7 separate regions of the Homo sapiens genome follow, and all the other regions are reported to be linked to region 3. Evidence: microRNA targets listed by miRTarBase, many of them from high-throughput screens and not tested one by one. Region 3 holds a microRNA gene; each other region holds the end of a gene's coding sequence.

Region 1 (4,058 bases), not on the chromosome of region 3:
CAGTGACAGTTAATATGATTCCTCTCATTGCCCATAGGTAGGCCACCGATCCAAATGGATCCTGAGTTCAGACAGAATCCTTACCTCCTGATAAGGTTGAGTGAGGATTATTAGGTGAGCCACAGACTAAGGAATGTTTCAGAAAGCAGTTTTCTAGGTGTAGTTTGGATTTACAAAAAAAAAAAAAAAAAAGTTCTCCAGGCCAGGCGTGGTGGCTCACACCTGTAATCCCAGCAATTTGGGAGGCCAAGGCAGGCAGATCACAAGGTCAAGATATCGAGACCATACTGGCCAACCAACATGGTGAAACCCTGTCTCTACTAAAAATACAAAAATTAACTGGGCATAGTGGCGCATGCCTGTAGTCCCAGCTACTCGGGAGGCTGAGGCAGGAGAGCTGCTTGAACCTGGGAGGCAGAGGTTGCAGTGAGCCGAAATAGCGCCACTGCACTTCAGCCCGTGCGACAGAGAGAGACTCCATCTTAAAAAAAAAAAAAAAAAAAAAAAGTTCTCCTCCTATTTATTACTTGTCCCTTCCTATGATCTCACTCTATCTTCACTCCAAGTCTTCAGCAAGACTGTATATGAACTATGTGATAGAAGGTACTGTTTCAAGGCTGACAGTGGGCCATTTTATCTATACCACAAGTATTGCTGAAATGCAAACATTTAGATTTCTTTGCCACTTTCTATTCCAGAAATAAAAGATGAAATTCTAAAATACTGGTTAATTTTATATGTGAGATAGCCACAGAAATTGTAAAAGATGAGAAGAAAAGCAGTTTAAGTGAGGAAACAATGAGAGAAAACCTATTAGAAAATTGAAACTTGATTTTGATTAACTAGGAAGTCTTCAAAAACAAACTAAAGGAGGCTGGGTTTAGTAGCTCCTGCCTGTATTCTTAGCACTTTGGGAGGAGGATCACCTGAGACCAGGAGTTTGAGGCTGCAGTGAGCTATGATTACACCACTGCACTCCAACCTGGGTGACAGAGTGAGAGACCCCGGCTCTGAAAAAACAAAAATAAATAAAAGCAATTGAAGGGAAGTCATTCCACAATTTAAACTTGCTTTATGCAGTGGATGCATTCCTGAAAGGCTATTATTATTTTATCAGGGCTTCATATCATATAAAGAAATGGAATTCACGATGACAAACCTATGGAAATGCATTTTCTTCTTCTCTTTTTTTCATAGCTTCCTACTCAAATTAGGAAAATGCATTTTCTTTTTTTCTTTTTTTTTTTTTTTTGAGATGGAGTTTCACTCTTGTTGCCCAGGCTGGAGTGCAATGGCGCGATCTCAGCTCACCACAACCTCCACCTCCCAGGTTCAAGCGATTCTCCTGCTTCAGCCTCCCTGGTAGCTGGGATTACAGGCACGTGCCACCATGCCTGGCTAATTTTGTATTTTTAGTAGAGACGGGGTTTCTCCATGTTGGTCAGGCTGGTCTCGAACTCCCAACATCAGGTGATCTGCCTGCCTCGGCCTCCCAAAGTGCTGGGATTACAGGCATGAGCCACCGCACCCGGCCTCTTTTTTTTAAAAAAAAAAAAAGACAAGAATCTTGCTCTGTCGCCCAGGCTGGAGTGCAGTGGTGCAATCTCGGCTCACTGCAGCCTCTGTCTCCTGGGTTCCAGCGAGTCTCCTGCCCCAGCCTCCTGGATAGCTGGGATTACAGGCACATGCCACCACACCCAGCTAATTTTTGTATTTTTAGTAGAGACAGAGTTTCACCATGTTGGCTGGGCTGGTCTCAAACTCCTGACCTTGTGATCTGACCACCTTGGACTCCCAAAGTGCTGGGATTACAGGTGTGAGCCACCACACCCGGCCTGCAGGGTCCAATGTCTCTTATTTGCCACTATCACTAGTACCAAGCACAGTGCCTACCACTGTTGAGTGACCCCTCCTGTAATAAACTTACACTACTGCCTCCCAAATGAAGCCCCTCTCCCAGTATTTATGCCTAGACCTATTTCCTTAATGGTGGGGACTAAACAAGAAAGAGGAGCAGAGAGGGGGTACAGAACAGACACTTAGCTGAGGAACATTAAGACCAAAATCACAGAGCAAAGCAGGACTGCAACAAGTATTTCTTAAGAGGCTATGTGCAAGGTGGCTCCTCAAGTCTAGAAGACCCAAGCCTCAGGCTTCCTCCAGAAAAGCAGTCTGGGAGACAGAATTTACAAATCAACTGGCTGACCGGACGAAGCCCCGGAATCCTGTGTCAATTCGTTTTAAACTAAGGCCAGATGCTTTTTGGTAGGCTGCCTCTTCCCGTGAGCTGGTGGGTACTTCAAGTCTATGATTTGATTCTCATTTCTTAAAAAAGGATGAGTATGTGTGGTAGTTGGGTATGGTATAGGTATGGTATAAATTTCAGGTGGAAATAGGAATTAAAGGATCTGATTTGCCTTGGTGGGGGAAGAAAAAGGCCATAAAAGAGAATCGCACTTAAAGGTACATTGTTGAAAAATCTAAACTATAAAATTAATTACCTGCCATTATTACATCAACAACAAAAAGGCATTTTATTTTATTATTTTTATTTTTTTTGAGACGGTGTTTCATTTTTGTCGCCCAGGATGGAGTGCAATGGTGCGATCTTGGCTCACTGCAACCTCCACCTCCCAGGTTCAAGCAGTTCTTCTGCTTCAGCCTCCTGAGTAGCTGGGATTACAGATGTCCGCCACCATGCCCAGCTAATTTTGTTTGTATTTTTAGTAGAGACGGGGTTTCATCGTGTTGGCCAGGCTGGTCTCAAACTCCTAACCTCAGGTGATCTGCTCACCTCGGCCTCCCAAAGTGCTGGGATTATTATGGGCATAAGCCACTGTGCCCAGCCCAAAAAGGCATTTTAAACAAAAATTCTGACGTTTAAAAACTGAAAATATATCGCGCCACTGCACTACTGCCTGGGCAACAGAGCAAGACTCTGTCTCAAAAAAACAAAACAAAAAACAAAAAACCCTGAAAATATGAGCCCAGGAGTTCGAGGCTGCAATGAGCCAATACTGCACCTTTGTGCTTCTGCCTGGGCGACAGAGTGAGACCTTGTCGATAAGAAAAAAAAAAACCTGAAAACAGAAAAGAGGGCTTTTACAATGTTGATGAACTCATCTTAGAGTGCATGATTTATAAATACATAAATATCCATGCATACTTTTACAGTGATAACTCCTGGGAAAATGAGAATGTTAAAAAAGCCAATCTAGACAGAGTCCTTCTCATTCCACCTGCCTCTTTATGTTGGTAATACCAGGAGTCTTAAGAGAGCTGCTGTGGTCTATGTCACATTCATCCCAGCCTCCTTTCTAATCCTGTAGCTGATGATGAAAATGTGATAAATCTTCTGGCTTAGCTTTGATGCTGGGAAAAAAAGAAAAGAAAAGGTTACATAACCATGTAGTCCAGTGAATCAAATTCATCTTCATAAATTAAAATATAGCAGTGATGTAATATTTATGTACTATCCAGACAGTAAGTATACTCAGAAATTATTAATATTTTACAACATACAGAAAATTCAGCAAAACATTGACCACAGCATCCATTTGGAAGCCAGAACTTGATTTTCCTGTCTTGTCACTTGCAATCTATAAATGTTCACAATTTAAAGTGATAATGGAAATGCTTAAAATACAACTTTTTCTGGCATGCTTTGCAGTGAAAGGTTCTAAAAGCAGAGTCACACAAACACTTATTGTTCTAAATTAAAAGCAGTCAGTTCAGGTAGTAATTCACAACATTTCACATTGAGTCAGGATATTTAGATGTGAAGGTTATATATTTCTGGATTTCACACTATTAGAAACTGTAAAAGCTTGTCTTCAAATAGTGGTGAAATGAAGCAGAGCTATTCTTTCTGGTTACTCTCTAGCACCTTTGGTAAATTTAAACTTGGCTTTAGACAACTTTTAAACAGGGTGTGAAAAAATCACTTTGGCTGTCACCTTGTATTTGAATGAATTTCCTTAACATTTAGCAGTGCAAGTGAATCAATCTGAGAGTCTTTTTAGTAATCAGAGATTTCAAGGTATGACCTATTTCCTAGT
Region 2 (4,065 bases), not on the chromosome of region 3:
TGCACCTGGAGAATTCTGGTTTAATTGGAATGGGGTAGAGCCTGGAGATAATCAGTGTTTTCGAACGGCTCCCCAGGTCACTCAGAGGTACTGTTTGCCAGAAGAAACACAGCCTTAGGTATTTATAAATTATATTAGCACACTGAATGCTCTGAGAAGTCCTTCAATCAAGAAATCTGTAAAGCTCTTTTAACCCTGAGTTTCTCAAATGTATTTGCCTCTTTACCCCTGCTTCTTTTTCCCCTAGTACTTTTATTAACCTATTAAACCATTCTGAAGTGCAATATTTTATAGAATATTACTTAGAAAATCTACCGGGGGTTGAGGGGGTGAAGAAAACAGGACAGAAGTTTTTTGGACTACCTGTCAGTTTCAGCTTCCTTATCTATAAAATGAGGGTAAAAAGTAGTACACAGAAATAGTGTGAGAATTCAACGAGGTAATGCATTTAACCACCTAGAACAGAGTTAAGTATTCCCTGAGTAGTAGAATGATGATGAGTTGGCACCATTACTAGGCTCCCTGGGCACCCAAAGGGGTCTGGATGTTAGGATGTTAGCCCAGTGTGTCCAACCTTTGTGATACTCCTGGCACTTCTCTTGCCCCAGTCACTCAGCAAGGTGATACTCTGCCTCCACCAGCCCAAGGAGGCTGACTTGCCTGTCCACTAGAGTGACCACTGCTAACTCTTCTTCTCCCCCCTTGTTCCCAGGAAAGATGGTGAATGTGCCCCTGGAGCAGCTGCCCCTCCTCTTTAAGGTGGTGCTGCATTCCTGCAAGACCAGTGTGGGCAAGGAATGACCTGTTCCAGGCGCCCTCCTCAGGCCAACCACAGCGTCTTGGGTGGGCAGGACAGGCTCTGGAGGGAAAAGCCAGAGAGACCAAGATGGAGGCTGTGGAGCAGCATTTCCCGTTGCCTCCATAGCAAGAAGAGTTTTTGTTTGTTTGTCTGTTTTTTTAACCTCATTTTTCTATATATTTATTTCACGACAGAGTTGAATGTATGGCCTTCAACATGATGCACATGCTTTTGTGTGAATGCAGCCAATGCATTTTCTTACAGTTTACAGAATGTGAAGATGTTTAATGTTACAGTGTTGTCATTGTTTAGAAATAGTTCTTTTGTATTTTGAGGGAGAGGGTGGGATGGGGCTAAGATGACTATTTCCATAATGTTGACAAAGATGACTACCTCAATGGAAATGGGGGGTGTGGCCATCCCTACTTTTTCCACATTTTCTCAGCAGACTCATACATTTGTCTGTCAGAGAGCAAATTGCCTTTTTTAGCCACAGAATTGCCAGATAAAACGGCACACTGTAAGGGGGCAAAGTGTTGTTAGGAGATTCACTAAGCAAGGTTGGTGAGACGGCAACAGGGTAGGAGGTGAGGATTGAGCCACGTCCTTTCCTTGGAAAGCGTGAAAATTAAGAGAGTAGGGCACAGTGACCATATTTAAGGCAGGTGTCCTTCCACCCAACAAGTCCTAAGGGCAGAAGAATTTCTGTTCTCACACCTTGCTGCCCCCCTTACCCCTGCACCACCATCATTGTCTACCACTGCGAACTTTCCATCTAGGCAAAGTCCTGGCAATCACTTGATCCACAGGACTCGCCTCCCAGCTCCCTCGGGGCCCCCAGCTACCTAGTTTCCTTACCTGGATCTCCTGAGGCCCACCTTCCTCCTTCCCACTCCCTTACACATTTGACTTCCTATTGGCCCTTTGAAAAACCAGCTGAGCAGAATGCCATGTTCTGAAGCCTGGTGCCCACTACTGATTTATTCTCCTTTCACCTTGTTTTCTTCAAAGGGTAGTAGGGCAAGGCCAGACTGCAAAAAGAATAGACACTCCCCTTTTGAAATCTGTTCCTCTCCCCTCCCCTTCCTACCGCACCCTCAGGTCTAAATCCGAAAACTTCAGGCTTTTTTAAACAATGAGAAGGACCATTCACCTGTCTGCTGACCAGAAATGTTGCCCCTAAGTTCTTCTCCAAGTTCTCCTTTTCTCTCCAGAGTGAGACCAGTTTTCCTCAGGGACCCAGGACACAAAGCCCAAGGCCCAGAGTGGCTCAGCTGCCCCTTACTTCAGCAGTGGACTGGCCAGCCAAGGCCTGGAGGGCTGGAGCCAGAAGCACCTGGAAGGGAAGGGGGGCTTTAAACTACCTCAGGTTCCTAATGGCCCGGCTGCTACCTCTGCAGACATGGCCTGGACTCCTTGACCTCTCACTACCTGCCCCACCTTATCCCAGGACGTGTTCCTTACCCTCTTGACTTTGGCCAGCGCTACACCAGGTCTGTCTTTGAACTCTTTCAGGTGCTTGTCCTGCCTACACCCAGGTATCTTTCACAGCCAGTGTGGCAAGCAGACCACTTAGTTGGCTGCATGCCTGGGTAGGTTGGAAGGGCCCACGGCACCTTCTTCTGCCTATTTAGTCAAAGGCTGTTTGCTGTCTCCTCAACTCAACCTAGTAAAGCTACCCAGGAGGGCACCACGTCGTGTGCATACTGGGTAGTCCATGTCTGATTGTAATTGTTTCTTTCTGGTGAAATGTTACGGGTACCAGCAGAGTGATGATTTTGGCCCTTGATGGATCTAAAACTCGGAACATTACTCCTCAATGCCGTTTCCCCAGTTGCTCTGAGAAGGAAGAGACATGTTCCTCAGGAAAAGCTCCAGCTAGCATGTTTTTCACGTCAGTGGGAAGATTCTTGTGTGTTCGTGTGTATCTGTTTATTTCTAAGTTCACGATACTTGTTCCCCTGAATTTTATTTAACCAACTAGATCACATTCTTTGGCCACAGGTCAGACTCTGAGCTGCTTTCCTCCAGATCGGGAAGGAGACACATATCACAGATGCCTTCTCTAAGACAGCTCCTGTGTACAGCATCGTTCTTTGCTGAGGCCTCTATCTGTCCAATTATTATTTTTGAAATTGCTTTTCAAATTAAACATTTTACCCGTTGTGTTGGGTGTCAAAAGAAATTGCTCTCTGATGAGGCAAGAACATGTCTCTCCAACAACGTAGTATTGAACAGAGCAAGTTGTTAATTTGTGGAGTAGGGGAAAGGTTCTGCAAGTTGCCATTGTACAAATCCAGTTTTACAAATGTTTGCAGCAGATTCCACAGAACAAAGAGCCCATTCATTGCCGAGAGCCCTGCAGAATCTCAGAGCAAAGTGGCTGTGTGTTCCGAGCCGGAGCCTGACCTGTGGACCGTCTTTAATGTCTTCTGCACCAGTCCTTTTATGACGTGGGCTTTTTTTAAACAGGGTAAAGTGAATGTGTTGCATTGCAAACTCAGGTATTATGAGGAGAAGGTAGGAGTGTAGCTAGCAGCGTGGAGACATTAGGTCAGCCACTAGATGTATTTGTGAATTTGGTTTGAAGGACACGGAGAAAGGTTGGAGGGGAGGTTTGGTGTGTTTGTTTTTTGCTTTCTTCCCCATAATGTTTGGTTAACAGGTAGCCTTTTTGCGAGTGGAAGGAGAGAAAAGTTGTGCATGTTTTCTCTAATTTCTCTTTCTGCCCTCTCTCTGATCCCCAACCACCAAAAGCACTCACTTTGAGTGAGGATTTTTTTTTTTTTTTTTTTTTTTTTTTTTGAGGCGGAGTCTCGCTCTGTCGCTCAGGCTGGAGTGCAGTGGTGCGATCTTGGCTCACTGCAAGCTCCGCCTCCCGGGTTCATGCCATTCTCCTGCCTCAGCCTCCTGAGTAGCTGGGACTACAGGCGCCCGCCACCACACCCGGCTAACTTTTTTTGTATTTTTAGTAGAAACATTGTTTCACCACGTTAGCCAGGATGGTCTCCATCTCCTGACCTCGTGATCCGCCTGCCTCGGCCTCCCAAAGTGCTGGGATTACAGGCGTGAGCCACTGCACCCAGCCGAGTGAGAATTTTTATGCCATAAAAATACGACTCTGAAAGCTACATGGAAAAGGAGAATCCCACCTCCTTGCACTACATTGAAACATGCAAGCCTTTCCCTCCCTCTCCTTTTTGATGTTTTCTTGTCCCAAGACAAAAGTTTGGCATCTTGGAACTTATTCATGCTCTCTGGCTGCC
Region 3 (4,065 bases):
ACCATGGCCCTCTTGTGTCACAGCCACCTGACCCCCAGTGATGGCCTTCCCAGGGGAGTCCGGACAAAGCGTGTCTCCCACACCTCCTCCTCCCACCCCGACCCTTCTGCAGACCACTCACCACCTGTGCTGTCTCCTGACCCAGCCCCAGGGAGAAGAAAGAAGGCATGGCGCAGGGGAAGCAGAGGGGCTGGAAGTCATTCAGGGCTGGGAGTAAGCAGGTATCTCCTCTCCCCTTCATCCCCAATTCCAAGCCACCACTGCCCAGGGGTGAGCAAGAAACCTCACCTTCAGTGAAGGGCTCCCACTGATACAGCTGGCCCATGAATTCCTGGGAGTTAAAGGCTGCGCACTGCAGGGCCCGGGGGTCTGGCTGCTCAGGGGGGCAGGGCTGCGGTGAGGGGTACAAAGGAGTCAGAGCTGGGGAGCAAAATGAGGGTAGGGGCAGGGCTGAACCTGGGGAGCAGGTGGGAGGCTCAGGTCAGCGGAAGAGCTCCAAGACCCCTGCCCTGAGGTGGTCAGATGCCAAGGCCCTTCTCCCTCAGGTGCCAAGCGGAAGCTGAAGACCCAGCTTCAGGGCAGGGAAGCCACACTGGAGGTCGGGGTTGGGAGGGGAGGCCCGAGGAGACTCACCGCTTGGCTGCAGGCTCTTAGCTGTTCACTCTCCCCAGAACATCTTGGAATAGGGCTACTGGGAGCAAAGAGGCTCCAGAGGGAGCTGGCATGGGGGCCGTTGCTCAGCAGGGGCAGCCAGGCGCCCGGGTGCTGAGGGTCAGGCTCCAGGCGGGGCCCGTGAGGAGTCCCCCCCGTTCCCCAAGGCCCTTGGCCCTGCTGGCCTCGGCCCCGAGGGACCGAAGGAAAAGGATCAGGGCGTCTCCCTGCTACCTGGGGACTGGCCCAACCCTGGGAACTTGGCCTTCGTGGCTGAGGGGATGCACGGAAGAAGCCACCTTCTCCTAAGGAGTGCGTGGGTGAGGGGGGCTCTGTGCCAGAGGCCTGGGCTCTGGGGTGATGCCGTAGGGGGGCAGGCCTGGTTCTGGGGGCCACCTCTGTCTGAGCAGTTTCAGGGCTTAGAGGTTCTGCTTGGGGGGATGGGGTGTGGACAGACAGTTCTGTGGGAGGGAGCTCAGTTTGGGGGCTGCCGTTTGCGGAGAATGGCTCTGCTCTTGGAGTAGGGGACGGAATAGCCTCTTCCCCTCTAGAAGAGATCAGGGACAGCTCAGATCTGGGTGGGCTCCGAGGGTGCCTGCGGTTCCGGTGCAGTGGCAATGCAAAGGGCACTCTCCCATAACCGAACATTCCTGGCTTGATGGGGTCTCGAAGCCGGGACCTGAGAAGGTGTTTCAGATGTGGGGGCACAGCTCTGACCACCTCTGACCCTGTTTCCCCAGTTTACTTCCTGGCACCAAAGACAAGCCCTCTGAAGCCACCCGTGCTCCCCTTTCCTTCATGCTAAGCCCCCACCTTGCCCAAGGCCCACCTCTTCCACCCAGGCCTCTCACCTCCTGGCCGCTCGAATCTCCTGGGTCTCCTCTCTCCCTAGGTGGGAAGCGGGACCTCGAAGTGGGCCACCCCTTCCCCGAGACTGTGTCCTGTACAAGGGGAGGGTTTCTGGAGAAGTCTGGGGTCTGGGACCCTGGCCCCGGGGGAGGAGGGCTTCTGGATGTCTTGGGGGCCGGGGAGGGAGGGGCAGACTCGGGTGGAGCTGCACTGTAGGGAGCTGACATGTCCGGCTCCTGCGCTGCACCCCCACCCCGCAGGGCTGGGAGCAAGAGGCCCACTGGACCCAAGGTCCCCAGACACCTTCGGGGCCCTGGCCCTCCTCTGTAGGTGTCTGAAGAGAGTGTCCGGACAACACCTATATAGAGAAAAAGGTCAGACAGAATTGGAAGGATTAGAGGGAACTGTCCAGAGTGTCCATGTAGACCAACACTGAGGCTCACGGAGTCGCTACCAGTCCAAGGTCACATTCAGCAGCAGAGGGAGAACTACACCTCGGCCTCTTGGTGTTATGAGGCAAGGAACTGGGGAGTTGGCAGGGGAGGTGGGTGGGCTGTGGGGAATGGAGGCGTGGCCTGGAGAGATGGGGTGGGAGCCTAGGGGGAGATGAAAGGGTGGCAGGCAGGCTGCAGCTGCTCACTTGTCCAGAACTCACCTCCTGATCCAAGCAGAGCTGAGGGAGGGACAGAAGCAGCAGCAGATACAGCCAGGGCCTGCAAACCAAAGGCCAGGGGAGGGACGTCAGACTGGAGCCAGAGGGGGTGTTGCAACACTGCCCTCCGCCCCCAGCCGGCTCCCATATCCTGACTACCAACTTCTCAGAAAGCAGAAGTTACTCATCACTTCCCCTGCCCCTCCCAGTGGTCCCCTTTCCCTCACTTCCAGACACAGAGCCATCCCAGCACCTCCCCTTTTCCTCCCCCCCAACCCGTGGCCCCTTCTCTCACCTGCCAGTCCAGTTCTCCATCGCTCCCCCTCTACTGCCCCAGGGGGAGGCAGGAGCGGACTGGTCACAAAAACTACGCAGGCATCTGGGCGTGGAGGGTGCTCTCTGCAGGGACAGAAGCCTGGTGGTTACCTCTCCAGTGTCCAGAGAGCTTGGGGCTGGGAGGACAGCTCAGAGAATATGGAGGAGGGGGTGAAACTGGTCCATCCCTTTAGGATCCTCAGGGTGGGAGCAGGGAGGATCACTGCCTTGTCCATCTGTAGAGGCTACATGGTCAGGGGCTGACCTCAGCCCTCCAACTAAGGCTCAGTCCCCACCTCTGGGCCCTGTAGGGGCTTCTTAGCTCCTCCCCAAATCCTACCTAGGGACTGTTTCTAAGCCGGCTCAGGCACACACAAAAGGCTTTTTTTTTTTTTTTGAGATGGAGATCTCACTCTGTCATCCAGGCTGGAGGGCAGTGGTGCCACCAAAGCTCATTGCAGCCTCAAACTCACAGGCTCTCCTTCCTCAGCCTCCTGAGTAGGTGGGACTACATGCGTGCACCACCACACCCAGCTAATTTTGGTATTTTTTGGTGGAGATGGGATCCAGCTAAATTGCACAGGCTGGTCTTGAACTCCAGGCCTCAAGCGCTTCTCCTGCCTTGGCCTCCCAAAGTGCTGGGATGACAGGTGTGAGCCACCGCACCCAGCCAGAGGGCTCCTTCTAAAATGGTTGTCATCTGCTCCCACTCCTGCCCTCCCAGAGGTGCCTAGAAAGTAGAGGAGGAAGGCTCCACTGAGGATGCGCCAGACACTCTCTCTGAGGACCCACCAGAAGCCCCTTCCTTGGGTCTTCCAGACACAAGACCTTCCCCAGTCATCTCTCTGTCCTACTTGCCTCCCGGCTTTCTCTTCCCTTCTTAGATAAGCTCTTTAGGGAACATCCAGGCACATCTCATACACTTTTTGGCCAAGGGATAAGCTAAATGGGTTGACGGTTTAATCTCTAGAGAAGAAGCCGGCAATGTAACACCCACTCTGGGTGCCAGCATCTGGAGTTGGTTCAGTGAGGGCTTGTTTCCTGTGCGTCTCTACCAGCTGGGGAAGCGGGAAGGAGAGGTGCAGCCGGGGCTGCCTCATGCCCCAGCCACAGGCCTCTCATTCTGAAGAGCCGGGAAGTCCATCTGAAGTTCAGCTTTGAACACTGGAGAAGTGAGGCTTGGAAGCCACCCCAGCCACCAAGCCTGACTCTCTTTGCCCCCTTCTTCTCACTTTGAGTCCTTCCCACCCCTGCTCCTCATCCCACTCTTAGTTCTGCTTTCCAGGAAAAAAAAAATCTGTTTCTGTTGGATCTGAAAGGCACCCGGGAGAGGAATCCAGGGAGCCCTCGCATTGCTGAGGTGGGCCAGCTCTGGGGCAGAAAATGACCAAGAGAAGGGTAGGAATGTGCCTGGGGGCAGACACTCAGCCCCACTGCCCTCCCTGAGACCTAGGGTTCGGAATTTGAGGGAGGGGTCAGAGTGGCTGAGCCAGAGCGGGCGCCTCAGGGATTGGGGTTGGGGTGGGGGTTGCCGATGGCCACTCCTTCCCCTGGCTGGGCCGGCCACTAAGGTCAGCAACTCCACCCTGACTGAACGG
Region 4 (4,065 bases), not on the chromosome of region 3:
AAAATCCTAGGGGTCCTTTGACCTAGAGTCACACACAGGACACAGATTTGCTTTCAGAATCCATTTTTATTACAATGAAGGAACAAAGGAGCAACAGCCCAGGAGAGAATTCTAAGAATAGAACTAAAAGCAGAAGTGTGTGTTTTCGCAGATTCCTATCAGGAGGATGTATGACTAATGCTGGTAAGAATTCTTGCCTTTACTCTTCCCCAGGTAACTGAGGGGCGGGGGAATTCAGGCATGATAACAGAGGAACAACTTAAGCGCTCTAAACCCCAAAGGAAATGCTTTCTTGCCTCCATTTCTTTATATGTAAAACGTGTTAATATAAGAAGTCATAATATTGAGCACTTACTGCCAGGCGCTATGCTTAATGCTTTACATGCACTTAATCATTCATTCAACAAACATTTACTGAGCACCTGCTATGTGCAGGTCCTCTTCTAGGCATTGGGTATATAACAGTGAACAAAGTTCTGATGCCTCAGGAATGTACATTCATTTAAACTGCCCAATGACACACTGAGGTTGTATTACAGTATCCCTGTTTGACAGACGAGGAAAATGAAGCTACAAATGATTAAATAAAATCTGCCAGGCTGGGCGGGGTGCGGTGGCTTACACCTGTAATCCAAGCACTTTGGGAGGCCGAGGCAGGCGGATCACAAGTCAGGAGATCAAGACCATCCCGGCTAACACAATGAAACCCCGTCTGTACTAAAAATACAAAAAATTAGCCGGGCGTGGTGGTGGGGCGCCCGTAGTCCCAGCTACTCTGGAGGCTGAGGCAGGAGAATGGCGTGGACCCAGGAGGCAGAGCTTGCAGTGAGCTGAGATTGGGCCACTGTACTCCAGCCTGGGTGATAGAGCAAGACTCTGTCTCAAAAAAAAAAAAAAAAATATATATATATATAGATAGATAGATATCTATATATCTCTATATATATCTATATATATGCCAGGCTGGGAGCAGTGGCTCATGCTGGCAATCGCAATACTTTGGGAGGCCAAGGTGGGAGGATTGCTGGAGGCCAGGAGTTTGAGACCAGCTTGGGCAACACAGTGAGTGAGACCTCGTCTCTATAAAAAAAATTTAAAAATTAGCTGAGTGTGGTGGCTTATGCCTGTACTCCCAGCTATTCAGGAGGCTGAGGTGGGAGGAACACTTGAGCCCAGGAGTTTGAGGCTGCAGTGAGCTATGATCATGCCACTCACTGCACTCCAGCCTGGGCAACAGAGCAAGATTCAGTGTCTAAAAACACAAGCTGCCCTAAGATCACAGGCCTAGTAAATGCTTGAGCTGAGATTCAAACTTCGATGCTTCTAATGCTCTATAGCTCGTACTTTTCATCACTAGGCTGCACAGTGCCTCTGAAAAAAGGAATAATAGGGACAGCCTAGAGGGGTGTTTTGAGGCCAAAGAACTAGAAGTTGGCAAAGTTCTTTTTTTTTTTTGAGACGGCGTTTCACTCCTGTGGCCCAGTCTGGAGTGCAATGGCACGATGTCACCTCACCGCAACCTCCACCTCCTCGGTTCAAGTGATTCTCCTGCCTCAGCCTCCCGAATAGCTGGGATTATAGGCATGCGCCACCACACCAGGCTAATTTTGAATTTTTAGTAGAGACGAGGTTTCTCCATGTTGGTCAGGCTGGTCTAGAACTCCTGACCTCAGGTGATCCGCCTCAGTCTCCCAAAGTGCTGGGATCACAAGCGTGAGCCACCATGCCCAACCCCCAGAAGTTGGCAAGGTTCTTAAGTGGGTAGAGTATCCTGGGCATTTGAGAGAGTATAAATTAAGGAGTTGAGAACCATGTTCACCACTTTGTAGCTTGAGAAAGGAGCTAGAGTTGGCCTGGAATGTTTCCCCCTAATTCAGGGCAGGGGCAGCTTGTCATTTCGTAGAGTCCTCTGTTTCGAGGGGTCCAGGTACACATTTGGGAAACTCATGTGTATGAGGGAGTCTTGCAATAAGAGGACAAAACTGATGTTCACACAGAATCGGTCTAGAAACTGTATTCCGTGAAAGGATGAAAGCTCTTAACTTCTCTGTCCCCACCCCCCCAAAAAACTTTACTGTCACATAAGAGTTGACTAATGACCCTCCACTAAAAATTACACAGTATACTGCCTGCCACCAAATACGAATTCAGTAAATACTTGGAAAATAAGTGAATAATTTCAATTCACAGTCACATGACAAGTTGTCAAAAGCAATTATAAAAGCAATTGTATTGGACTCAGCACATCCCACTGGAGAAGCCAGGGCAAGGAAACAGATCCCTCAGCACCTTCTTTGAAATACAAAGATTTGAAGAAGGTCAGAGCAGATTGTTTTGTTGTTGTTCTTCTTGGGCTACCAGGAAGTCACAATGATGACAGACGTACAGATGTACATTTGGACAAAATGTACAGATGTACAAAGAAATGTAAAGATGAAAATTGATAGATCAATAGATCCCAATCTAAAGAGCCTCATTCGGCCTGAAATAAAGCATTGATTGACTGAGCCCGGTTTCTGTTTTCTGAGATAAGGAATGATTTAAGGTCAGAGGATAGGAAATGCTGCTAACTGCCCCATAGCCCCTAAGAGAGTGAACATGCCCCATTCAAACACATATACCCATTTACTTAGCCATTTAAAATGACACAGGGGAGGCCAGGCACGGTGGCTCACGCCTGTGATCCCACCACTTTGGGAGGCCAAGGCAGGCGGATCACCTGAGGTCAGGAGCTCGAGACCAGCCTGGCCAACATGGCAAAACCCTGTCTCTACTAAAAATACAAAAATTAGCCGGGTGTGTTGGCTGGCGCCTCTAATCCCAGCTACTCGGGAGGCTGAGGCAGGAGAATTGCTTGAACCCGGGAGGCAGAGGTTGCAGTGAGCCGAGACTGTGCCACTGCACTCCAGCCTGGGACACAGAGTGAGACTCTGTCTCAAAACAAAAACAAACAACGAAAATTACACAAGGGCTGTGCAGTTCCTAGCCCCCCTCCCAACACACACATGCTCCACTCCATGCACATTCTGTCCCCTGCCATTGTGATCAGATAAGAAAATGCAGCCAACTCACTTCAATCAACTGGAACCTCCCCAAAAGGTATAGTTGTGTGAATTTCATTTCCGACAGAATGAGAAGGATGCAGTTCATGTGCGAGAAGCCGTCTTGCAATAAGAAAGGGGGGTGGCATTTTCAAAGCCCCCGACCCCTTAGCACGAGTTAATTCTAAGTCACCACTCTATCTTCCTCAGTGTTGTTGGTCTGCTTGTTCAGTGCCACTCAACAATGTGGGGATCCCATTGCCCATCAGACTGGCTTTGGAAACTATTTGCCACACTGATGCAACTCCTGCGACCGAGGTTCGAAATTGGCATCTCTTCCGGCCTTTGTGTTTTTGAGTGTCCTGGCTGCTTGGGTTTCAGACTGCAGATTTTGAGCTTGTTGTAGAATTTGGGAAAGGAGGGGCTTGAAAAATAATACACCAGGGGATCCAGCATGCTGTTCATGTAGGTGAAGCTGAGGGTTATGTGCAGGGCCCCATGGACAGAGGGATCGCAGGCACTCGAGGGCACCGTCCAGAGGAAATAGAGTCTAGCAGACACGCTGGGCAGGTAGCATGTGATGAACACAATTGCCACCACCATGATGAACCGGGTCGCCTTCTTCATCCGAGCCTGTCTGGCCAGCTGCTGCCTCCGCCTCAGGCTCCAAACAATCTTGAAGGAGCAAAATAAGATGATGCCGAGGGGCATAAAGAACTCCAGCTGGAACATGATGTCATGCCAGCCATTGGCCGACTCCATGATGAAGCTCTCACAGGAGACGGCCGTCTCTTGCACGCAGAGATGGTTCTCCAGCAAAAGATACACTGTTCCCAGGATGACCAGGGCCCACAGGGTGCAGACGATGCCAGCCGCCACCCGGGTGGAGATAGTGTTCACCGCGTGGTGGGGGTGGACCACTTTGAAATACCTGTCCGCAGCCACCACCGTAAGGAACACGATGCTCCCGGCCCTGTTCATGGCCAACGTGAAGAGCCCCACTCGGCAGGGAATGTCCCCAAAA
Region 5 (4,065 bases), not on the chromosome of region 3:
ATTTTCTTCCACCTCTGCCACCCCAAGACCAACCCTTCCTCCTCCTCCTCCTCGGGTTACTCAATGGGAAGATGATGAGGAAGAAGACCTTTATGATGATCCACTTCCACTTAATGGATGGCCAATATTTTTTCTCTTCCTTTTCCTGAGGATTTTCTTTTTTTGTTTTTGGAGATGGAGTCTCGCTCTGTTGCCCAGGCTAGACTGCAGTGGCACGATCTTGGCTCACTGCAACCTCTGCCTCCCAGGTTCAAGCGATCCTCCTTGTCTCAGCCTCCTGAGTAGCTGGGATTACAGGTGCCTGTCACCACGCCTGGCTAATTTTTTGTATTTTTAGTAGAGATGGGGTTTCACCACATTGGCCAGGCTGGTCTCGAATTCCTGGCCTCAAGTTATCCTCCCACCTCGGCCTCCCAAAGTGCTGGGATTACAGGCATGAGCCACTGCTCCTGGCCTTTTTTTTTTTTTTTTTTTTTTTTTTGAGACAGAGTCTTGCTCTGTCACCAGGTTGGAGTGCAGTGGCACGATCTCGGCTCATTGCAACTTCTGCCTCCCGGGTTCAAGCCACTCTCCTGCCTCAGCCTCCCGAGTAGCTGGGATTACAGGTGCCCACTACCATGCCCAGCTAATTTTTGTATTTTTAGTAGAGACGGGGTTTCACTGTGTTGGCCAGGATGGTCTCAATCTCCTGACCTCTTGATCCACCTGCCTTGGCCTCCCAAAGTGCTGGGATTACAGGCGTTAGCCACCACGCCCGGCCCTGTATTTTCAATCTCATGAATTACTGCCCTGAGACGAGTCTATGTAACAAAATATCTGAGGCTGAAAAACTGCTTTTTAAAAATAAATCTACCTGAGGCCAGGAGTTTGAGACTAGCCTGGCCAACATGGCAAAACCCCATCTCTACTAAAAATACAAAAAATTAGCCAGGCATGTTGCCTAATGCCTGTAATTCCAGCTACTTGGGAGGCTGAGACAGGAGAATTGCTTGAACTTGGGAGGTGGAGGCTGCAGCGAGCTGAGATCACACCATTGTACTCCAGCTTGGGTGACAAGAGTGAAACTCTGTCCCAAAATAAAATAAAATAATAAATAAAAATAAATCTATGTCCAGTGGATCCAGGTCAACACCAGCCTTCTAAGTCATGTTGATGACATGGATCTTTGATGTGATTTGATGTCAATACACTTCATCTCTGTGGTCTTCCTCCCCCAAGTCCAGCTCCACATCTAGTCACGGGAAAAACATCAGACAAATCCCAGTGGAGGGACATTCTACAAAGCACCTGACCAGTTCTCCTTGTAACTGTCATCAAAAACACACAACGTTTGAGAAACTCACACAGCCCAGAGAATTCTTTTTTTTTTCCTTGAGACAAGAGTCTCACTCTGTCGCCCAGGCTGGAGTGCAGCGGTGTGATCTCGGCTCACTGCAACCTCTGCCCCCCGGGTTCCAGCGATTCTCCTGCCTCAGCCTCCTGAGTAGCTGGGATTACAAGCGCCTGCCACTGCGCCCGGCTAATTTTTCTATTTTTAGTAGAGACGGGGTTCCACCCAGCCCAGAGAATTCTAACGAGATGTAAGGTCTGAATGTCATGGGGGATCCTGGGACAGAAAAAGGACATTAGGGGGAAAAACGAATTTTTTTTTTTTGACAGGGTCTTACTCTGTGGCCCAGACTGGAGTGCAGAGGTGCGATCTTGGCCCACCACAACCTCCACCTCCCAGGTTCAAGCGATTCTCCTGCGTCAGTCTCCCGAGTAGCTGGGATTACAGGCATGCTCCACTACCACCCGGCTATTTTTTGTGTATTTTTAGTAGAGACGGGGTTTCACCATGTTGGCCAGGCTGGTCTTGAACTCCTGACCTCAAATGATCCACCTGCCTCGGCCTCCCAAATGGCTGGGATTACAGGTGTGAGCCACCGTGCCCTACCTGCATTTTTTTTTTTAGACGGTGTCTTTCTTGTCGCCTGGGCCAGAGTGCAATGGCATGATATTGGCTCACTGCAACTCCACCTCCTGAGTTTCAAGTGATTCTCCTGCCTCAGCCTCTCGAGTAGCTGGGATTACAAGTGCGCACCACCACGCGCGGCTAATTTTTGTGTTGTTTTTTTTTAGTAGAGACAGGGTTTCACTATGTTGGCCAGGCTGGTCCCCAACTCCTGACCTCAAGTGATCCCCCCCACCTCGGCCTCCCAAAGTGCTGGAATTACAGGCATGAGCCACCGCACTCAGCCAAAAAAACAGAGCAATTCTGAATAAAGTAAGGACTCTAGTTAATAATAATGAATCCGTATTGGTTCATTAATTGGGATGTAAGTAATGTGTAATGTAAGATGTTAAAAATAAGGTAAACTCTCTAAGGGGCTTATGGGAACCCTTCGTATTTTCTTTGCGATCTTTCTGCAAATTTAAAACTGGCCAGGCACAGTGGCACATGTCTGTAATCCCAGCCCTTTGGGAGGCTGAAGTGGGAGGATCACTTGAGCCCGGGGAAGTGGAGGTTGCAGTGAGCTGAGATCACACCACTGCACTCCACCCTGGGTGACAGAGCTCAGACCCTGTTTCAAAAAAAAATTTTTTTTAAGGATAAATTGTCTAAGGGGCTTATGGGAACTCTTTGTATCTTTGTGATTTTTCTGCAGGTTTAAAACTGTCCTAAAAAATAAAGTTGGTTAAAACATAAAAATGGGCAGGGCTTGGTGGCTCACGCCTGTAATCCCAGCACTTTGGGATGCTGAGACAGGAGAATTGTGTGAGTCAAGGAGTTTGAGACCAGCCTGGGCAACATGGCAAGATCTCATCTCTTAAAAAAAAATTTTTTTTAAAAGTAAAAACTTAAGATTTAAAGAGCAATGTTCCACCTGGTTGATCTGCTTCCTGATACCCATGCAGGGAAAACAATGTTTACAGAGATTAAAGAAGCTTCTCTTGTTTTGTATTAAAATATTTTATATTAATCATTCAAACTTCATTTTATACAACGAGTGCATACACCACTGGGGGAGTGTCTGACTGATGCGTGGGAGGGCGGGTGGGGATGTCTGCAGCTATGAGTAGGGAGGAGGCGGGGAAGCCCTGGGTGCTTCCTCTCCTCGACTGACCGCTGTGTGTTCGTCCCCAGAGGAAGAGCGGGAGGCAGTCAGCCCCGGGGGGGATGGCACAGTGGAGAGACGGACCTGCAGAAGTGGTGGCCAAGGCCTCTGTAAGGGCTTCCCCAGGAGATGTGACCTTTCCAGGTCTTGCAGCCGAGTCTGCTCACCCTGAACAAGCCCCCGAGTCCCGGTCCTTGGAGTACGGTGGCGACGGTGTGTGTGTGTATATATAGACATCTGCACTGCCCCCTCTCTGGAACCCGCCCGTGCCCTGTCCCGCCTACACACGGCCCTCGCCTAGGCGGCAGGCATGTCAGCCTTGCTGAGCGCGATGGCCAGTTCCAGGTCCTCCTGCTCCTGCCGCCGCAGCCGCGCCAGCCTCTCCTGTTCCGCCTTCTCGCTCTCCCGCTTGGCCCACGCCAGCTGCTGCTCCTCATTGCCAAACTGCAAAGGAAAAACGGAGAGTGGGTGATGTGGCCCTGGGGCTGGGACCTGCAAGCTGGAGGGAGGCAGGGAATGCGTGGGAGGGGTCAGGGTCCTGCCCACCGCCCAGCGGAGGGTCCGATGTGCAGGGGATAAGCATGTCTTGGCTGGGCCCAGTGGGCGTGCGAGCCTGTCTCAGGCCCCCCATCTGGAAAGCAGAGTGGACGGGATGCATGTGATTGAGTGTGACCTTAACCATGACCTCTGGGCCTCAAAGAAACCAGCCACCCCGCCCCACGCAGAGAAGTGAGGATGGGCCCTTGACGCTGGTGGCCAAGAGGTGCAAAGATGGGGAACTTCCAGCGTGCATGGCTCTAAAGCCCCACGGCGCAGACAATTCTGCACTCTGGGAATGTGGTATTTCTACCTCCAGCCATGCTCCAGAGAGCTCTGAGACCCTCTGAGGGTCATTTTCTTTTTCTTTTTCTTTTTTTTTTTTTGAGATGGAGTCTCGCTCTGTCGCCAGGCTGGAGTGCAATGGCGC
Region 6 (4,065 bases), not on the chromosome of region 3:
GTTGAGGGCTAAAAGCCAGTCGTGGAGCCGTCCAGGATTTATCTAGGAAGGGTGACATCTGCCACTGCTCCAGCAGAGCGGGGGCATGGCATGCTTCTGAGGGCACACAGTTCAACACATGAGGCACTCTGCAGCACACAGGACCAAGGTGTCATGCTGCCAGAGGGGCTGGCATTTGCCATTTTGTCAAGGCAGGGCTGCAGCTTGTGGCTTGCTCAGGACAGAAGGATGTTGGGCTCTTACGAGATAGCAGGAAGAAAGCATGAGGTAGAGGGGCTGGTCCTTACTCTCCATCCCCTGCGTGAGATCCAGGAGGCCTCATTCAGAGCCTAGCTCTGGTCCTCCATTCGCCACATGTTTTTTGAGCACTTATAGGTGAGTCACCACCCTAGGTTCTGGGGAAATGGTGAACAAAGGGCCAGAAGTCTCTGCTTCCTGGAGCTGACGTTCACTCCATAATGCTGGACAAGACATCCTGAGCCCATTTCTTCGTAAAAAGGAAGGAGAATGTGGGTCATGAAATGATCTGCTATATGAATGTAGTGTTATAATGTTGCTTTGTCTCAAAGGTTGGTTTGCTGAGCCAGGTAGTGTCTTAGGGGCCAGGGATAGAGAGATAACTAAAACAAAGCTCCTACCCTCAAGACCCTCTCAGTCTAGTGAGGAAAGCGGAGAAACTCACAAATAGGAATAAAAGGAGGCACTATATTGCAAAGCTATCATCTTGAGTTACCTGGGAGTCTGATATGAAGGTCACCCTAATAAAGACAGACTATGCTTTTGGAGTCTCAACAGGACTTGGCAGAGCAGCCAACCCTGGTGCACTCTAGACCTTGAGGGTGATAAGCCCAAAGAGGGTTGGATTGAGGGAGGGAGCTGCATGGGGGCCGTGGCCGGCAGGGTCCCTGGAGATTACAGCAGCAGAGCACTGGCTGGCTCTGAAGGGGAACCCTTGCCAGGCCTCTAGCAGAGGCTTGTCTTTCCATGTACAAGAAAAGTTAAGTGGTGAGGCCTGGAGAGGGGCCCCCTTCTGTACTGTGGTGAAGATAAACGAGGCTGGGAGAGGAGTGAGGGGACGCTATCCCAGAGAGGCTCCTCCCCACAGAGTGGGCAGAAGGAAGACAGAACTGGCCAGCCCCTCGGGGGAGTCGAGAAACCTTCCAGAGTGTGGGTCCCTGTCTCCATGCCCTGCCTCTCCAGACCTGAGTGCCTGCCCTCTGCTGTGACTGCCAGCCTCGTCTGTCCTGTTGGGTGAACTCTGTCCCATCTCTCTTGCCCCTCAAACATTTATTTATCCGGTGTCAAATTCCTACCCACCTTCCTCCAGGGGCCAGGCGCTACGAGATGAGGGGAAGGAACGGCAAGGTCAGCGGGAGCCCGTGGAGTCAGACCCTCCAGCAGCACCACTGGGGGCTGGGCAGGAGGGCATGGGCTGAGGCCACAGGGAAGGGCTGCTCCACAGGGAGGCCTCCCTCTGCTCCGTGGCAGTTGTGGTGCTGGAGATGGAGACCGTGTTTGCTTGTTGGGACCACATCTGCTTTCAGAGGGGAAGCGGGTCACTTCTTTCCCCTGGACCTGGAATGGGCACAACTGAGACGCAGGGAGCATTCCTGCAAGCTGGACACTGCTCTGGGAGAAGACCTCCATCCAACCTCCTGCCAAGACCCCAGCAGCTGCCAGTGTCACTGCCCACAAAAGTATTTGCTTAGCCCAAGAAGGAGTCAGTCAGATGTGTGGTGGCCATGAAATGGATCCTGCTGATTCTCTGTCAGACCTCCCTGCATTGGTCACTACCTCAAAGTTCCTTGGCTGCAACTCCATGTTGCCTGAATCTAGGGACTGTTGACGTATTGCAGGGGCTGGGCGCGGTGGCTCACGCCTGGAATCCCAGCACTTTGGGAGGCCGAGATGGGTGGATCACCTGAGGCCAGGAGTTGGAGACCAGCCTGGCCAACATGGTGAAACCCCGTCTCTACTAAAAATACAAAAATTAGCTGGGCATGGGGGCGCACCCCTGTAGTCCCAGCTACTCAGGAGGCTGAGGCAGGAGAATCACTTGAACCCAGGAGGCAGAGGTTGCAGTGAGTCGAGATTGTGCCACTGCACTCCAGCCTGGGTGATGGAGCGAGATTGTCTCAAAAAAAAAAAAAAAAAAAAGAGCTGCAGGGAAGAATGGCTGAGTGGAGGCCAGTGGCTTCATTGTGCCTCATCTGAACTCCCTGAAGGCTGAAGCAGGTCCCTGAGGCTTTCTGACCACACCCTCCACTCCCCGGCTGTTTCTATTTTTTTAATTTTTTTTTCTGAGAGGGAGTCTTGCTCTGTCACCCAGGCCAAAGTGCGGTGGCTCACGGCAACCTCCGCCTCCCGGGTTCAAGGGATTCTCCTGCTTCAGCCTCCCAAGTAGGTGGGATTATAGGAGCCCACCACCACACCTGGCTAATTTTTCTGTTTTTTAGTAGAGATGGGTTTCACCATGTTCGTGATTCTGCTGTTTCTAAGGAGTCTCTCCCAGGACCATGGGGGTCCACAGCAGGCCCTGAGACCCTGAAGCAGGTTGGCTGCACCTGGGCTACCACCTGCAGTAAAGGGGCTAATCTCTGAATGAGGCTTCCTGGTTCTCAGGCAGGGGATGGAGAGTAAGGACCACCCACTGTGCCTCAAGCTTCCCCCCTGCTGTCACTTAGGAGCCTGCCATCCTGCCATCCCTGAGAGCTTCCCAAGCAAGGCACAAAATCCACAGCCCTACTCTGACAAAGTGGCAAACACCAGCCCCTCTGGCAGCATGATGCCTTGGTCCTGTGTGCTGGAGAGAGCCTGTGTGTTTACTTGTGTGCCCGCCCATACAAGCCATGTCCCTGCGCCGCTTGAGCCCTGTTGGCTGCCTAACTGCTCATCAGCCTCTGACGCTTTGAGGTCCCTTCCTGGTCTCAAGATCCTCTGAACATCTGCCTCTGATAGGCCTTGAACCCGAGCCGCCTCCGGGCTTTTGTATTCAACTGCAACCATATCATTTGCCCTTGCTGATTCACTGTTTTGCACTTGATCTTCTGGCTGCTTCATGTGAGTCTGTTTTGTCTTCCTGCCGAGATAAAAACTCAAGGCTGGGGACTCGCTGACCAAATAACAGAGCAAGGCAGGCTTTTCGGCCTTGCATAATCTGATTCTTATTAAAACCCGCCGATTTCCAGGCACCAAGCCCCTATCCTCGTCAACAAGAAGTTTATCAGCAGGGTTGACTGACTCACAGGGAGGTGTGACCTCACTGCTGGAAGGAGGAAGTGCCATCAGAAACCTGTATAGATAATTTCCTGAAAGCTTCCAAGTTTGGTTTTTTGGGGAACTCCTCAAAGGAGAGGTGGATGGCAGGGGAAGGAGGAGGGGTGATGGGGAGGAGCAGAATAAGAAGTTGTACAAACAGGAGAGGCACAGAGTGGGGAGAAGGAAGCCACCACGGACGGTGAGCCCTGGGGCTTGGAGAAGGCCCTCGGCACCCTTCCAGGGCAGCTCCCACCTGTCAGTTGAAACCACCACCTGGAGACTTTCCACCATTCTCAAGGCCTTCCCACAGGTTCTACCCACCCACTGTCCCCCACCATCTGTCTGCCTCCCAGGCCACGCTGTCCACACTGAGTGAGCCCGCTAGTTTATTCAATACTAGGAATAAGCCGGTATAAAATACATTTTTAGAAAATTCACTTGGAGATAAAAAATCTTGTCCCCACTCCTCCCCCAATCCCACACATCTGTGCTCTTCTGCCTGAGTTAATTCAGCTTTGCTGAGCCTCCTGCAAGAGCTTGAGCAGGGGGTCGTCAGCCCTGAGGGCGAAGGTGAGCGTGCGCTGCTGGTAGTGCCTAGGGTCACACTCCAAGTTCTCGATCACCTCAGCCAGCAGGTGGGCCCGCTCCACGCCTGAGCCGGGGGCCTCGAAGCCCAGGGCGGTGAAGTGCACATGCAGGTGGTAGTAGGAGGGCAGGTAGTGCAGGTATACTCGCAGATGGTCTCCCTTCATCCGGTAGCGCTGCAGGATGGCCTCCTGATGAGACAGGGGCAGGCAGGTCAGGAGT
Region 7 (4,061 bases), not on the chromosome of region 3:
TACACTACTTTCTAGATTTATATGTAAAACAGTTCTGCTCTATTACATTCACTTCATATAGACTACAAACTTGGTATTTCTGCTTTTGTGTTTCCTCATTCCACAGATTCCATATTTAGCATTTAAGAATTTGCTCTTCCCTTTTTGGTAGGTGAGATGTCCCATCATGATACTTTGGATGCTGCTTCCCAAGGAATAAATGTCATCCTCTGTGAACACAGCAACACTGAACGAGGCTTTCTTTCTGACCTTCGAGATATGCTGGATTCTCACTTGGAGAATAAGATAAATATTATCCTATCAGAGACTGACAGGGACCCTCTTCAGGTGGTATAATTGCAGAAACATCAGGATAACACATTCTACAAATCAGCTGGATGCCAACTTAAATTTGTAACATGAGTCAGTGGGACTGGTGTGCTTCCAGAGAGTGTCTTCGAGGGTATCATCATTTCCGGTTTGTTAATCTTATTCACCAAATGTTCTATCGCTCGTAAGGTAAAACTGTAATATAACTACCATATTAAATAACAAATGTTCATTATAAACTCTAGGAAAGATTGAATAAAATCTGTTTACTTAACATTCTTTGGAAGGAGCTCAAGTGATTCTGTCCTTAGTTTAATTGTAGATGGGATGGATCCATTTGGGTATCTCTGCCCTTGGTTAGTTAACATTATGCTTGAAAAACTTGGGCTTGAACACTTCTAGGTAGTAGCCTTTTTGCAGTGATAAGAAGTTCTGTTTGTCCTTGTTCCTAGTTCTGCCTACATTCCAGTCTCTCACCTAAATTTCAGAATCAGAATGAGATTTATCAGGATGTTGTTTTGAAAATATGTATACACAATCATTATTCATATTACTGTTACTTTATTGCTTTTTAGATGACTTACCTGTAATTTTTTTTTCTTCCACAGTCCTTTGTTCCCGATTTCTGCTCTGTCACTTCCCTCTCCTGGCAATGAACTTGGCTGCCGCAGGCAGGGGGCAGGGCCAGGGAATGAAATTCCAGAGCAGAAAGAACAAAGTCAGATATCTCAAAATATCATCCTGCCCCATTTAATCTGGGCCTTTTATCCATGTGGATGCCCCTTTCTAAACAGCACCTGCGCTGGGCTGCGAGGCCCCTGCCTGCCTGCTGCTGGTTGGGCAGGGCAGATACACCTTTCTCCACCTGAGGACTGCGTTCTCAGGTAATCTGGCTAAAGCAATATTCCCTCCATTTTAGGCATTCTTAGATTGCTTTTATGATTTGTGCTATTTTACCATACCACATGTAATTTTTACTTCATGCTTTTGTGTAAAGCAACTTTTTCTCTTTTTGTTTATTTTTTATTGTGGTAAAATTCACATAACATAAAATTCGCCATTTTATTTTCCTGCCCCCCCCTTCCAAAATTCACCATTTTAAAGTATACAATTCCGTAGCTTTTAGTACATTTACAGTGTTGTGGTACTGTTACCACTACAGTTCCAAAGCATTTTTCATCACCACAGAGGGAAGCCCCCATTAAGTAATAATTCCCTCCTCCCATCCCCTGGATCCTATTTCTATGGATTTGTCTATTTTGGATATTTTCTATAAGTGGAATCATAAACATGTGGTCCTTTGTGTCCGGCATCTTTCACTTATGTTTTCTCCATTACTGCCGCCTTTTGTGTTTGATTTTTTTTCTAGTATTTTGACTCCCTTATTTCCTTTTAAGTATCTATTTTATCTTCTTACCTATCTTTAAAGGAAATTTTATGTGACATCCATTATAACTTAAATATTTACTTAATCTATATTAAATACAGGATTATTAAAATACAAAGGAACACTGCTCAAAAGAAATGTCATTTTTTTTTAATGTCATTTTTTTTTTTTTTTTGGAGACGGAGTCTCACTCTGTTGCCCAGGCTAGAGAGCAGTGGCATGATTACAGCTCCCTGCAACCTCTGCCTCCCGGGTTCAAGCGATTCTCCTGCCTCAGCATTCCAAGTAGCTGGGATTACAGGCACACGTCACCATTCCCAGCTAATTTTTGTATTTTTAGTAGAGACGAGGTTTCACCATGTTGGTCAGGCTGGTCTCCAACTCCTAGGCTCAGGGGATCCGCCCACCTCATCCTCCCAAAGTGCTGGGTTACAGGTTGAGCCACCGTGCCTGGCCTGAAATGTCATTTTTAAGCTTAGTGTCTAATGACATGTTTTGTGTTGTTTTGCTGATTTAATAAATAAGGCCAGATACTGACATGAAACAGTGGTTTAGTAATCCCTTATCTACTCCAGAAAGCTGAAGGCTGAGGAAGGACATGCACATTCCCTCACAGGTGTCACATGAAAAATCTTCCCTATCCTGTAGGACTTAAAAGGTCGCCTTGGATGCCCACATGGACAATACATTCCAGGTGGAAGGTTGCAGATTGTAGGGAATAGTGTCACCACCTTTGTTGTGCATCCATGACACCTTATATAATCTCTTGTGCACATGTATTAGAGGGTGCTCCATACCAATCTAGATCAGGATCCAAATCAGACACTAGTGCAGGAAAGAAGTGAAGCTGGCCAGGAGGTGGCAGCAACAGTTCAGCCCAAGGCAAGTGCTGCTGGGCAGAATGAAGGTCCAGCGTGGCCAAGTCTTCCTGATCTTTCAGGGGCAAAGGAAATCTGGATTTTTAATATGTGGGGTGTTAAAATATACATATATTATCATATATAAAACATACATATATACATGTTTCTGCACAGTTCCTGGCTTATAACTCCTCTAGCCCTTGTTACAGTCTTTTAGGTGTGTTAAGCCTCAGGGGCAGGCCTCAGGAAACAATCTCTCAGAGTTCTCCTGCCCTCCTTTCACCAGTCCCAAAGCAAAATCCTAATCTCCCTCCTTTTTCTTTTTTATTTAGAGACAAGGTCTTGCTCTGTCACCCAGGCTGGAGTACAGTGGTGTGATCATAGCTCACTGCAGCTTCAAACTCCTGGGCTCAAGTGACCCTCTCTCCTCAGTCTCCTGGGTAGCTGGGCCTACAGGCACCTGCCACCACCCACCCCCTACTGACTAATTTTTTCAAATTAAAAAAATTTTTACTTTTGTAAAGACCGGGTTTTGCTACACTGCCTAGGCTGGTCTTGAGCTCCTGAGCTCAGGGAATCCTCCTGCCTTGGCCTCTCAAAGTGCTGGGATTACAGGTGTGAGCCACTGAGCCTGGCCGTTTTTTTTTTTTGAGACGGAGTTTCACTCTTGTTGCCCAGGCTGGAGGGCAATGGCGTGATCTTGGCTCACCACAACCTCCGTCTCCCGGGTTCAAGCGATTTTCATGCCTCAGCCTCCCGAGTAGCTGGGATTACAGGAATGTGCCACCAGACCCAGGTAATTAAGCATTTTTAGTAGAGATAGGGTTTCTCCATGTTGGTCAGGCTGGTTTCAAACTCCTGACCTCAGGTGATCCGTCCTCCTCGGCCTCCCTAAGTGCTGGGATTACAGGCGTGAGCCACCACACCCGGCCTTATTTTTTTTTATTTTTTATTTTTTGTGAGACAGAGTCTCACTCTTTCACCCAGGCTGGAGTGCAGTGGCACGATCTCAGCTCAATACAACCTCCGCCTCCCAGGTTGAAGCAATTCTCCTGCCTCAGCCTCCCAAGTAGCTGGGATTACAGGCATTCGCCACAATGCCCAGCTAATTTTGTATTTTTAGTAGAGATGGGGTTTCACCATGTTGGCCAGGGTAGTCTAGAACTCCTGACCTCAAGTTATCCACCTGTCTCAGCCTCCCAAAGTGCTGGGATTACAGGCGTGAGCCACTGTGCCAGGCAAATGCTGCCATTTTAAGACCTACACTTTGGGTACCAAAGGTAAAGATGTTGACCCTAAATACTTGGGAAGCCTGGGGCCAGTGATAAATATAAAAATTGGTATGAAAATTTAGTAATGAGCTTTGTATTGTACTCATGCTTAAAGTTATATTTTCCATAGCATCAGTCTTTTCAAATTTGCCTTATTCAACACATTAAGGATGCTACAACTTATGCTATTAAAACCTCATAGGCTGGGTGAGGTGGCTCACACCTGTTAATCCC

The links. Region 3 holds the annotated microRNA hsa-miR-4257 (CCAGAGGUGGGGACUGAG, at 2,752-2,769, opposite strand). A microRNA usually pairs through its seed, bases 2 to 8, with sites in the 3' UTR of a target mRNA and lowers its output. Matches are read on the target gene's strand: a 7mer-m8 pairs with bases 2 to 8, a 7mer-A1 pairs with bases 2 to 7 and ends in A, and an 8mer does both.
Region 1: the mRNA of CDKN2AIPNL is a reported target of hsa-miR-4257. The part of its 3' UTR that is shown has no 7-base or 8-base seed match.
Region 2: the mRNA of NR6A1 is a reported target of hsa-miR-4257. Seed matches in the 3' UTR shown: 7mer-m8 at 2,190-2,196.
Region 4: the mRNA of HCAR1 is a reported target of hsa-miR-4257. Seed matches in the 3' UTR shown: 7mer-m8 at 2,869-2,875 and 7mer-A1 at 2,547-2,553.
Region 5: the mRNA of EPS15L1 is a reported target of hsa-miR-4257. The part of its 3' UTR that is shown has no 7-base or 8-base seed match.
Region 6: miRTarBase lists DCPS as a target of hsa-miR-4257. Seed matches in the 3' UTR shown: 7mer-m8 at 2,071-2,077 and 7mer-A1 at 1,541-1,547.
Region 7: miRTarBase lists NIF3L1 as a target of hsa-miR-4257. The part of its 3' UTR that is shown has no 7-base or 8-base seed match.

What each region holds. Positions count from the first base shown.
Region 1 is chr5:134,399,555-134,403,612 of GRCh38, forward strand. CDKN2AIPNL (CDKN2A interacting protein N-terminal like) reads right to left here. Exons shown (of 3, transcript NM_080656.3): 3 at 2,511-3,372. The coding sequence ends at 3,361. Among named protein-coding and RNA genes, the nearest start is that of CDKN2AIPNL, 10 kb to the right of the region's middle.
Region 2 is chr9:124,519,441-124,523,505 of GRCh38, reverse strand. It overlaps NR6A1 (nuclear receptor subfamily 6 group A member 1), which reads left to right. Exons shown (of 10, transcript NM_033334.4): 10 at 713-4,065. The coding sequence ends at 801. Among named protein-coding and RNA genes, the nearest start is that of NR5A1, 14 kb to the right of the region's middle.
Region 3 is chr1:150,550,691-150,554,755 of GRCh38, reverse strand. MIR4257 (microRNA 4257) reads right to left here and starts at 2,827; the gene lies at 2,742-2,827. ADAMTSL4 (ADAMTS like 4) reads right to left here. Exons shown (of 19, transcript NM_019032.6): 3 at 2,448-2,551; 4 at 2,156-2,213; 5 at 1,503-1,858; 6 at 634-1,330; 7 at 289-391. The coding sequence starts at 2,467. It overlaps LOC124904417, which reads right to left. Exons shown (of 1, transcript XM_047438226.1): 1 at 3,406-4,065. The coding sequence ends at 3,696. It overlaps ADAMTSL4-AS2 (ADAMTSL4 antisense RNA 2), which reads left to right. Exons shown (of 6, transcript NR_187269.1): 5 at 24-221. RefSeq lists enhancers at 2,094-2,963, 3,453-4,065.
Region 4 is chr12:122,726,030-122,730,094 of GRCh38, forward strand. It overlaps HCAR1 (hydroxycarboxylic acid receptor 1), which reads right to left. Exons shown (of 1, transcript NM_032554.4): 1 at 47-4,065. The coding sequence ends at 3,270. Among named protein-coding and RNA genes, the nearest start is that of HCAR1, 2.8 kb to the right of the region's middle. RefSeq lists an enhancer at 3,577-4,065.
Region 5 is chr19:16,352,310-16,356,374 of GRCh38, forward strand. EPS15L1 (epidermal growth factor receptor pathway substrate 15 like 1) reads right to left here. Exons shown (of 24, transcript NM_001258374.3): 24 at 2,938-3,542. The coding sequence ends at 3,396. Among named protein-coding and RNA genes, the nearest start is that of KLF2, 30 kb to the left of the region's middle.
Region 6 is chr11:126,345,316-126,349,380 of GRCh38, reverse strand. It overlaps DCPS (decapping enzyme, scavenger), which reads right to left. Exons shown (of 6, transcript NM_014026.6): 6 at 1-4,034. The coding sequence ends at 3,768. The region is part of intron 1 of GSEC (G-quadruplex forming sequence containing lncRNA); the gene reads left to right. Among named protein-coding and RNA genes, the nearest start is that of GSEC, 8.2 kb to the left of the region's middle.
Region 7 is chr2:200,903,343-200,907,403 of GRCh38, forward strand. NIF3L1 (NGG1 interacting factor 3 like 1) reads left to right here. Exons shown (of 7, transcript NM_001369441.2): 7 at 152-583. The coding sequence ends at 336. Among named protein-coding and RNA genes, the nearest start is that of NIF3L1, 16 kb to the left of the region's middle.